Homo sapiens: one gene and its partner. The protein of the gene in region 1 purifies or fractionates together with the protein of each later gene. This does not show direct contact. Each region holds a gene or a part of one and is shown on either strand. Other genes may lie near its edges.

Region 1 (5,318 bases):
GGAGTCGGTGGGATGAGGCCTGGGATCACTGGCCTCGGCGGGAAGAGGCCTGAGGCCCCCCCTGGGCCCCCGGACTGAGTGCAGCCGGGGCTGAGACAAGACAGATGGAGCGGCTGGCGTGCACCTGCAGAGCAGATCCATCAATTATTGACACTCTGTGAGGTGCATGAAGAATTCATGGGACAGGGGTGGGGACGGCAGGGACTTGTGACATAATTGCAGCCAGCTCACCAGAGCCACCTCCTGTGTTTTCAGGAATTTTGCCATCTGGTAGTTAAACGCAGCCATTATTTAACGTGGGAGAATATAAACTTATAGTTAAGGCTGGGCGTGGTGGCTCCCACCTGTAATCCCAGCAGTTTGGGAGGCCGAGGCGAGTAGATCACTTGAGGCCGGGAGTTAGAGACCAGCCTGGCCGACATGGCCAAACCCCGTCTCTACTAAAAATACACAAATTTGTATTTTTGTACAAATACAAATACACCAGCTGGGTGTGGTGGCATGCACCTGTAGTCCTAGCTACTTGGGAGGCTGAGGCTGAGGCAGGAGAATCGCTTGAATCCGGGAGGCAGAGGTTGCAGTGAGCTGAGATTTGGCCACTGCACTCCAGCCTGGGAGACAGAGCAAGACTCCATCTCAAAATACATACAAACATACATACATACATAAACTTATAGTTAAATAAAGTACATTTAAGCCAGGGGTGGTAGCTCACACCTGTAGTCCCAGCACTTTGGGAGGCTGAGGCAGGAGGATCCGTCTCAAAAAAAAAAAAAAAAAGGAATATAGGGAGCAGGGGAAGAGTCAAGGGAGCCAGGGAGTTGGTGCCTGGTCACCCATTTTGCAGATGGGAAAGCTGCCCCCATGCATGGGGCCTGCCAAGGGTCACAGCAGGGAGACCTCAGAGCTGTGGACGGACCTGGACAGAGGCTGTGGACAGGGCTGAGGCCTCCTGGCTGTTCCTGTAACAAGCGTGACACAGCCCTGCCCCAGGGCCTTTGCACAGGCTGTGCCCTTTGCCTGGAGCATCTTCCCGCAGACCCTGTCATTGCAGGCCCAGTTCAACTGGCCCAGCCTCTCCCTAGAGAGGCCCTCCTGGTTACCCTGAACTTCATCCCCCACCCCCGTGGCCCATATCTCTCTTCCTGAAATTAACTTGTTTGTTTCTATTTATTGGTTACCGGCACCTCCTCCTTCCAGCAGGGGAACAGTTTTTGCACCCAGGCTGGAGTGCAGTGGAACAATCTCGACTCCCTGCAACCTCCGCCTCCCAGGTTCAAGCGGTTCTCCTGCCTCAGTCTCCCGAGTAGCTGGAATTACAGGTGCTCGCCACCACGCCCGGCCGACTTTTTTTTTTTTTTTCAGTTGAGTCCGGGTCTCACTATGTTGGCCAGGCTAGTCTTGAACTCCTGGCCTCAATTGATCCTCCTCCCTCTGCCTCCCAAACTGCTGGGATTACAGTTATGAGCCACCGCACCTGGCCAATCATTGTTTTAAAGTGTACAATTTATAACCAGAAAGTTATGTGACCATCATAAATTTCTGGAATCTCTAATTCCAGAACATTCCATTACCACTCACCCCAAAAAAACCTGGTTCCCAATTTAGCAATCGCTTTCCATTTTCCCCTCTTCCAGTTTCCAGCACCCGCGAGTCCGCTTTCTGCCCTTGTGGACAGGCCTCTCCTGAACATTTTTTTTTTTTTGAGATGGAGTCTCGCTCTGTCACCCAGGCTGGAGTACAGTGACGTGATCTTGGCTCACTGCAAGCTCCGCCTCCCGGGTTCACGCCATTCTCCTGCCTCAGCCTCCCGAGTAGCCAGGATTACAGGTGCCCGCCACCGCGCCCCGCTAATTTTTTGTATTTTTAGTAGAGACGGGGTTTCACCGTGTTAGCCAGGATGGTCTCGATCTCCTGACCTTGTGATCCGCCCGCCTCGGCCTCCCAAAGTGCTGGGATTGCAGGCGTGAGCCGGTGCCCGGCCCTTCCTGAACATTTCATAGAAGTGGGATCACACACTTTGTGGCCTTGTGTGTCTGGCTTCTGTCACTGGGAATGATGTCCTCAAGGTGCATCCACGCTGGAGCTTGTGTGTGAGCCTCGTTCCTTTTATGGCTAGAGAACATTCCATTGTTTGGACCGATCTCATTTTGTTTATTCATTCACCCATTAATGGACATACGGACATTTGAGTTGCTTCCACTTGCAGGCTACCCTGGGTCACGCCGCTGTAAACTGTGACGTGCAAAACAAGTGTTTGCGTGGTGTATGCTTGTGTTTCTCTTGGGTAGATCCCCCAAAGTGGAATTGCTGGGTCCTATGGTAACTGTGTGTTTAGATGTCTGAGGAGCCGTCGGACTGGGTTTTTTTGTTTTGTTTTTTGTTTTTTGTGACGGAGTCTCGCTCTATCACCCAGGCTGGAGACCTCGGCTCACTGTCACTGCAACCTCCACCTCCCGGGTTCAAATGATCCTCCTGCCTCAGCCTCCAGAGTAGCTGGGATTACAGGTGCCTGCCACCATGCCCAGCTAATTTTTTTTGTATTTTTAGTAGAGATAAGGTTTCACCATGTTGGCCAGGCTGATCTCAACTCTTCACCTCAGGTGATCTGCCCACCTCAGCTTCCCAAAGTGCTGGGATTACAGGTGTGAGTCAGTGCACCTGGCTTTTTTTTTTTTTTTTTTTTTTTTCCTTTTGAGACAGGGTTTTGCTCTGTTGCTCAGGCTGGAGTGCAGTGGTGTGATCATAGCTCACTGCAGCCTTGACCTCGTGGGCTCAAGCGATTCTCCCCCTCTCAGCCTCCCGAGTACCTGGGACCACAGACCCGTGCCACCATGCCTGGCTAATTAAAAAAAATTTTTTTTTGTAGAGATGGGATCTCGCTATGTTGCCCAGGCTGGTCTTGAACTTCCCAGTTCAAGCAATCCTCCTGCCTTGGCCTCTTAAAGTGTTGGGATTACAGGTGTGAGCCACCTTGCCTGGCCCAGATGATTTTGTAATGAGGAGGCAGCTTGGGGTCTAGAAAGCCAGGGCCTTAGCAAGGCAGGGATGGGATCTGTTTTGATGCCTGCTGTATCCCCAGTGCCTCTGTGGTCTCTTCTGCAAAGCAGGCAACCTGGCCAGTACCAGGTGGGAATGACGAATAGGCACAGGTCGCTGGCTCAGGACACTGGGGTTTGGTTACAAGCTTCTGCCCCAGGACAGCTGGTGCTCCATAAATGCTCGTTGAGCCACTGAATGGGTGTTAACACCTGAATCCCAGAAGCTGTAGCAGGCTGTGTGTGTTTGTGACGATGGCAGGGTGCCCTGGCATTTGGAGGGCGATGCCCCTAGGCCCCAGGCAGTCCCTAGGAAGGCCCCTGCCCTGTAAGGGCTGATGCGGCCGCTACACCGCCTCCTGCAGGAAGGAAGACCCAGGTTTATTTTGGTCCTCGGCCTGTTCCCCTGGGAGAGCAGTCATCCTCCTGTCTGGCTGCCTGGATGGGAGCGTTTCTGGCAGAACAATGGGTCAGGGAGGAGGAAGGGGAAGGCCAGGCAGCTGGGCCGCCCCAGGTGTCAGCAGGTCCCGGGGCTGCCCCGGCCGTCTTAGGAGTGTGGGGGCCAGGAAGGGAGGCCACAGCTGCTTGCCCCCCATCCCTCTTCCTGTTGGCCTTGCAGGGGGCGGGGGTTGCTCTTGGGAGCCCAGGCCCTTCCTGAATCTGTAAACAGGCCTGACTCCCGTCCGGAATCAACTTCTTCAGCCTCAGGACTCACAGATGGGAAAGTCAAGGCCCAGCGAGGGGCACAGCCCTGCCTGGGGTCACGGAGCTCCCGAGATGGGCAGAAAGATGTGGGCTCCAGGGCCGATGGGGTCCAGGGGCCTCATCCCCAGATGCAGAGAAAGGCCTTTTCCTCTTCGAGTCCCCTCGGTTTATTCATCTATGAACTGGGGAGGCTGGACCCAGGGGTTCGGGAGTTTCCTCTTAGAATCTGCAAACATCCTTTTTTTTTTTTTTTTTTTTTTGAGATTGAGTTTTGCTCTTGTTGCCCAGGCTGGAGTCCAGTGGTGTGATCTCAGCTGACTGCAACCTACGCCTCCTGGGTTCGAGCGATTCTCCTGTCTCAGCCCCCAAAGTAGCTGGGACTACAGGCGCCCACCACCATGCCCAGCTAATTTTTGTATTTTTAGTAGAGACGGGGTTTCACCATGTTGCCCAGGCTGGACTCGAACTCCTGACCTCAAGTGATCCTCCCGCCTTGGCTTCCGAAAGTGCTGGGATTACAGGTGTGAGCCACCGCGCCCGGCCAGCTTTTTTTTTTTTGCACAGGGAATCTCACTGAGATAGAACTAGGTCTGCAAGTTCACAGAGCTGAGGTGGGCACGGAAGGGCGGAATTCCAGGCAGTGGTTGCAGCCTCTCGTCCAGAGGAAGCTCACAGCTTAGGGGGCATTGCGGTTTGGTCACAAGCTTCTGCCCCAGGACAAAGTTCGTTCCGATCTTCCCCATATTTCAGATGGGGAAACTGAGGCACATTGTTAAGTTGCTTGCTGCAGAGGCCAGAGCTGGGAGCAGGCCCTAAATATCAGGGTTGCCCTCTAAGACTCACGGCCAGTTGAGGGCGTTAGGTGGGGAAGGCACAGGGAGTTGGGGTTCAAGGGCGTTGAGAGCCAGTGGTTACTGTATTGCTGTGTGGTCTTGGGGAAGTGGCTCAGCCTCTCTGAGCCTTTGTGGTCTCTTCTGCAAAACAGGCAACCTGCCTAGTACATGGTGGCGATGACAAAGTGGGCACACATCGCTGACTCAGGGTCTGCCACGTGGCACTGAGTCAACAGCACCCCTCTTCTGGCCTAGGCCTGTGCAGAGCCAGGGTCTGGTGACCGAGGTCGGAGGGCAGGGGCGGCCCATCCAGCAATTCCCGTGCCTGCCCTGACCTCAGAGGGCGGCCGAGGGTTTGGAACTTCTCCCGGAGTCTGAACTCACACAAAGACCGGCTTTGTGGGGGCTCCTGGGGTAGGTGGGTGCCCACATGGCATTCCAAGGCTGGCAGCCTGGCGCTGGGGTGGGAGTGGAGGCTGAGCAGGGTCTGGGGCAGTGAGAGAGACCGGGGGCGGGTCTCAGGCCCTCCCTCCTCCGCCAGTTCTTCCACACTCCCCTCTTCATTCAGCAGATGTTTCTGGAGTCTGCAGGGACACCGTGGATAAGGAATTGGGCCCATGACCTCCCCTGTGGCCTGGGGTGAGGCAGACCAGTTGGGGTGCAGAGCTGGGGAGCAGAGGAGCAATGGGGATGCCTGGGGAACCTGCGGCTCAGAGGAGGCAGAGACTTGGGGGCCAAAGTG
Region 2 (3,595 bases), on another chromosome or scaffold:
GGCTGGTAGAGGACGATTTCCTGATGAAGGTGCTGGAGGGCATGGCCTTTGCTGGCTTTGTGTCAGAGCGTGGGGTCCCATACCGCCCTACGGACCTGTTCGATGAGGTGCACCTCCACCCTGCCCTCCCAGCCCCCTGCCCTGGCTCCGCCTGACCATGGCTTACCTAACCTCCTGCTTACCCCGCTAGCTGGTGGCCCACGAGGTGGCAAGGATGCGGGCGGATGAGAACCACCCCCAGCGTGTCCTGCGTCACGTCCAGGAACTGGCAGAGCAGCTCTACAAGAACGTACGAGGGTAGCAGGACGGGAGGGCGTCGTACCGCCTTGATCCCTGGGCCCCTGCCCCACACCTGCCGTCTCCCCACAGGAGAACCCGTACCCAGCCGTGGCGATGCACAAGGTACAGAGGCCCGGTGAGAGCAGCCACCTGCGACGGGTGCCCCGACCCTTCCCCCGGCTGGATGAGGGCACCGTGCAGTGGATCGTGGACCAGGCTGCAGCCAAGATGCAGGGTGCACCCCCAGCTGTGAAGGCCGAGAGGAGGACCACCGTGCCCTCAGGGCCCCCCATGAGTGCGTAATGAGGGAGGGGAAGGCAGGCCCCGAGCGTGGCCCAGGATGGGCGTGGGGTCAGGGGTCCGAGTGTGTGTATTCTGTCCCCGCAGCTGCCATACTGGAGCGGTGCAGTGGGCTGCATGTCAACAGCGCCCGGCGGCTGGAGGTTGTGCGCAACTGCATCTCCTACGTGTTTGAGGGGAAAATGCTTGAGGCCAAGAAGGTGAGGGCTGTGCAGGCTCCAGCCGGGCCAGGGCAGCGGGTTTCAGAGGAGACCCAGGCTGCACTTCACCCTTGTGAGTGCTGACGCTGCCCCAGGGCCTCCTCTGCCTAACAGACAGCTAGAGGTGGCTGGGCTGGCCGGAGGGTAGGTGGGCTCCAGGTCTCCTCTCTTGACCTCAGTGAGGGGTGGGTCGGGCCTGCGCGGGAGACCCAGCCAGGGAGATGTACTTCCATTTTTAGAAATCAGAAGGTTTCACTATTATGTTTCGTCTGTGTCCTTCCCCTTAAATTGGGTAGGCCCATACACGACCTGTTCTTTGTACTTGATGGAAAACAGAGCTTGCTCCCTCCATACGTGACCTGTTCCTTGCATCTTATGGAAACAGAGCTTTTTGCTCCTGCTGTTTTGCTCTCTGTGGTGCTCACTTAACGCCTCTGGGGTCTTTCATCATGGCCAGTTGGAGACTCTTGTTTTTCATTGGCTGTATGGTGTCCCTTTGGGGCGGCCAGTTTTGTGATGAACGTTGTAGCAATAGAACGCAAACTCCAAGGCTTTCTGTGGCCGGGCCTGTGCCAGGCGAGTCACTGAGCCAGCCAGGCAGCTGTGAGCCTGTGAGCAAGGGGGCCCGGCCCGCAAGGCCTCCCTCCGGAGCGCACCTCCCTGCCAGCTCACAGGTGCAGCATCTGCGTCCTTGTGTCTGGCCTGGTGAACTTGTACTTGTGGAGTTGTCGGGCCCACTGGAGGTTTTAGTCTTTATTGGTCGGCAAAGCCCCAGAGTCTGGCACACCCCACCTGAAAGGCATTTGGGTCTCCTGGACACCTGCTGCCCTCCCTGCCAGGGCCCCGAGTGGGTCTTCTCTGTGCCCTCAGCCCGTGTCTCCTTTCCCCACCCCCAGCTGCTCCCAGCCGTGTTGAGGGCCCTGAAGGGGCGAGCTGCCCGCCGCTGCCTCGCCCAGGAGCTGCACCTGCATGTGCAGCAGAACCGTGCGGTCCTGGACCACCAGCAGTTTGACTTTGTCGTCCGTATGATGAACTGCTGCCTGCAGGTGAGGCCTCTTATCCTGCTAGTGACATGGCTCATGGCGCATGAGCGGGAACAGGCGGGCAGACCCTGGTCTGTGAGTGAGAGTGGAGAGACGGTGCAAGAGACTCCTGTGCCAGTGGGCAGGGGTCCTCGGTCTGCAGGGAACAGGGTGGAGAGAACCATTGTTGGGGGCAGGTGCTGGGGCCTGGGGTCTCCTGATATTGAGCCTCTGAGGCAGCCTTGGGGAGCTGGAGCCAAGGGTGTCAGGTGCTGGTCTGTGGTGGTTATGGGGTGGTGGGGGCATGGTGGGAGGTGAGTGCTGCCTGGGAGGGGAGAGGTCCTGACGGTCTCTCGCTCTACCTGCAGGACTGCACTTCTCTGGACGAGCATGGCATTGCGGCGGCTCTGCTGCCTCTGGTCACAGCCTTCTGCCGGGTGAGTGCTGGCATGGCTGAGGTCTCCTTCCCAGCCCCCCCTTCCTGGTGGCTGAGGTCTCCTTCCCAGCCCCCCTTCCTGGTGGCCGAGGTCTCCTTCCCAGCCGCCCTTCCTGGCTGCATCCAGCTGACCTTCTCCCCTGGCTCCTGCAGAAGCTGAGCCCGGGGGTGACGCAGTTTGCATACAGCTGTGTGCAGGAGCACGTGGTGTGGAGCACGCCACAGTTCTGGGAGGCCATGTTCTATGGGGATGTGCAGACTCACATCCGGGCCCTCTACCTGGAGCCCACGGAGGACCTGGCCCCCGCCCAGGTGCGCAGGGACTCCCTGGGCTGGGGGCTGGGGGCTAGGGGCTGGGGCAGCGTGGCCCCGGCTCATGCGTGTGGTGCCGTGGCAGGAGGTTGGGGAGGCACCTTCCCAGGAGGACGAGCGCTCTGCCCTAGACGTGGCTTCTGAGCAGCGGCGCTTGTGGCCAACTCTGAGTCGTGAGAAGCAGCAGGAGCTGGTGCAGAAGGAGGAGAGCACGGTGTTCAGCCAGGCCATCCACTATGCCAACCGCATGAGCTACCTCCTCCTGCCCCTGGACAGCAGCAAGAGCCGCCTACTTCGGGAGCGTGCCGGGCTGGGCGACCTGGAGAGCGCCAGCAACAGCCTGGTCACCAACAGGTGAGGCAGGGACTGGGGGTTGGGCCCAGTGGAGGCGGGGCCGTGGTGGGCAGGGCCCATGCCCACAGTTTCTTCTCTGGCCCAGCATGGCTGGCAGTGTGGCCGAGAGCTATGACACGGAGAGCGGCTTCGAGGATGCAGAGACCTGCGACGTAGCTGGGGCTGTGGTCCGCTTCATCAACCGCTTTGTGGACAAGGTCTGCACGGAGAGTGGGGTCACCAGCGACCACCTCAAGGGGCTGCATGTCATGGTGCCAGGTACGGGGGTTTGGGCTGGTGATTCCCCCTTGGATGGGTGGGGCTGGGCACAAAGTGTGAGAACTGTCTTCCCCCAGACATTGTCCAGATGCACATCGAGACCCTGGAGGCCGTGCAGCGGGAGAGCCGGAGGCTGCCGCCCATCCAGAAGGTTTGCGGGGGCCGTTGGGGCTGCGGGGGCCCAAGGCCCGGGCTGCATCCTGAGCTCCTGCTCTTGTTTTCGAGCAGCCCAAGCTGCTGCGGCCGCGCCTGCTGCCGGGTGAGGAGTGTGTGCTGGACGGCCTGCGCGTCTACCTGCTGCCGGATGGGCGTGAGGAGGGCGCGGGGGGCAGTGCTGGGGGACCAGCATTGCTCCCAGCTGAGGGCGCCGTCTTCCTCACCACGTACCGGGTCATCTTCACGGGGATGCCCACGGACCCCCTGGGTGAGCCTGC

Evidence for each region.
Region 2: the proteins of TNFAIP8L1 (region 1) and SBF1 purify together in Homo sapiens (affinity purification with mass spectrometry, with the first as the bait; one large-scale study listed by BioGRID). This does not show direct contact.

The regions. Positions count from the first base shown.
Region 1 is NC_000019.10:4,644,944-4,650,261, forward strand, and holds part of TNFAIP8L1 (tumor necrosis factor alpha-induced protein 8-like protein 1), read left to right. Parts: intron 1-5,318. UniProt on the Homo sapiens protein: Acts as a negative regulator of mTOR activity.
Region 2 is NC_000022.11:50,461,513-50,465,107, reverse strand, and holds part of SBF1 (myotubularin-related protein 5), read left to right. Parts: coding exon 1-107; intron 108-190; coding exon 191-289; intron 290-369; coding exon 370-574; intron 575-666; coding exon 667-779; intron 780-1,675; coding exon 1,676-1,825; intron 1,826-2,169; coding exon 2,170-2,238; intron 2,239-2,390; coding exon 2,391-2,549; intron 2,550-2,634; coding exon 2,635-2,903; intron 2,904-2,988; coding exon 2,989-3,161; intron 3,162-3,238; coding exon 3,239-3,312; intron 3,313-3,389; coding exon 3,390-3,585; intron 3,586-3,595. UniProt on the Homo sapiens protein: Acts as an adapter for the phosphatase MTMR2 to regulate MTMR2 catalytic activity and subcellular location. Promotes the exchange of GDP to GTP, converting inactive GDP-bound Rab proteins into their active GTP-bound form.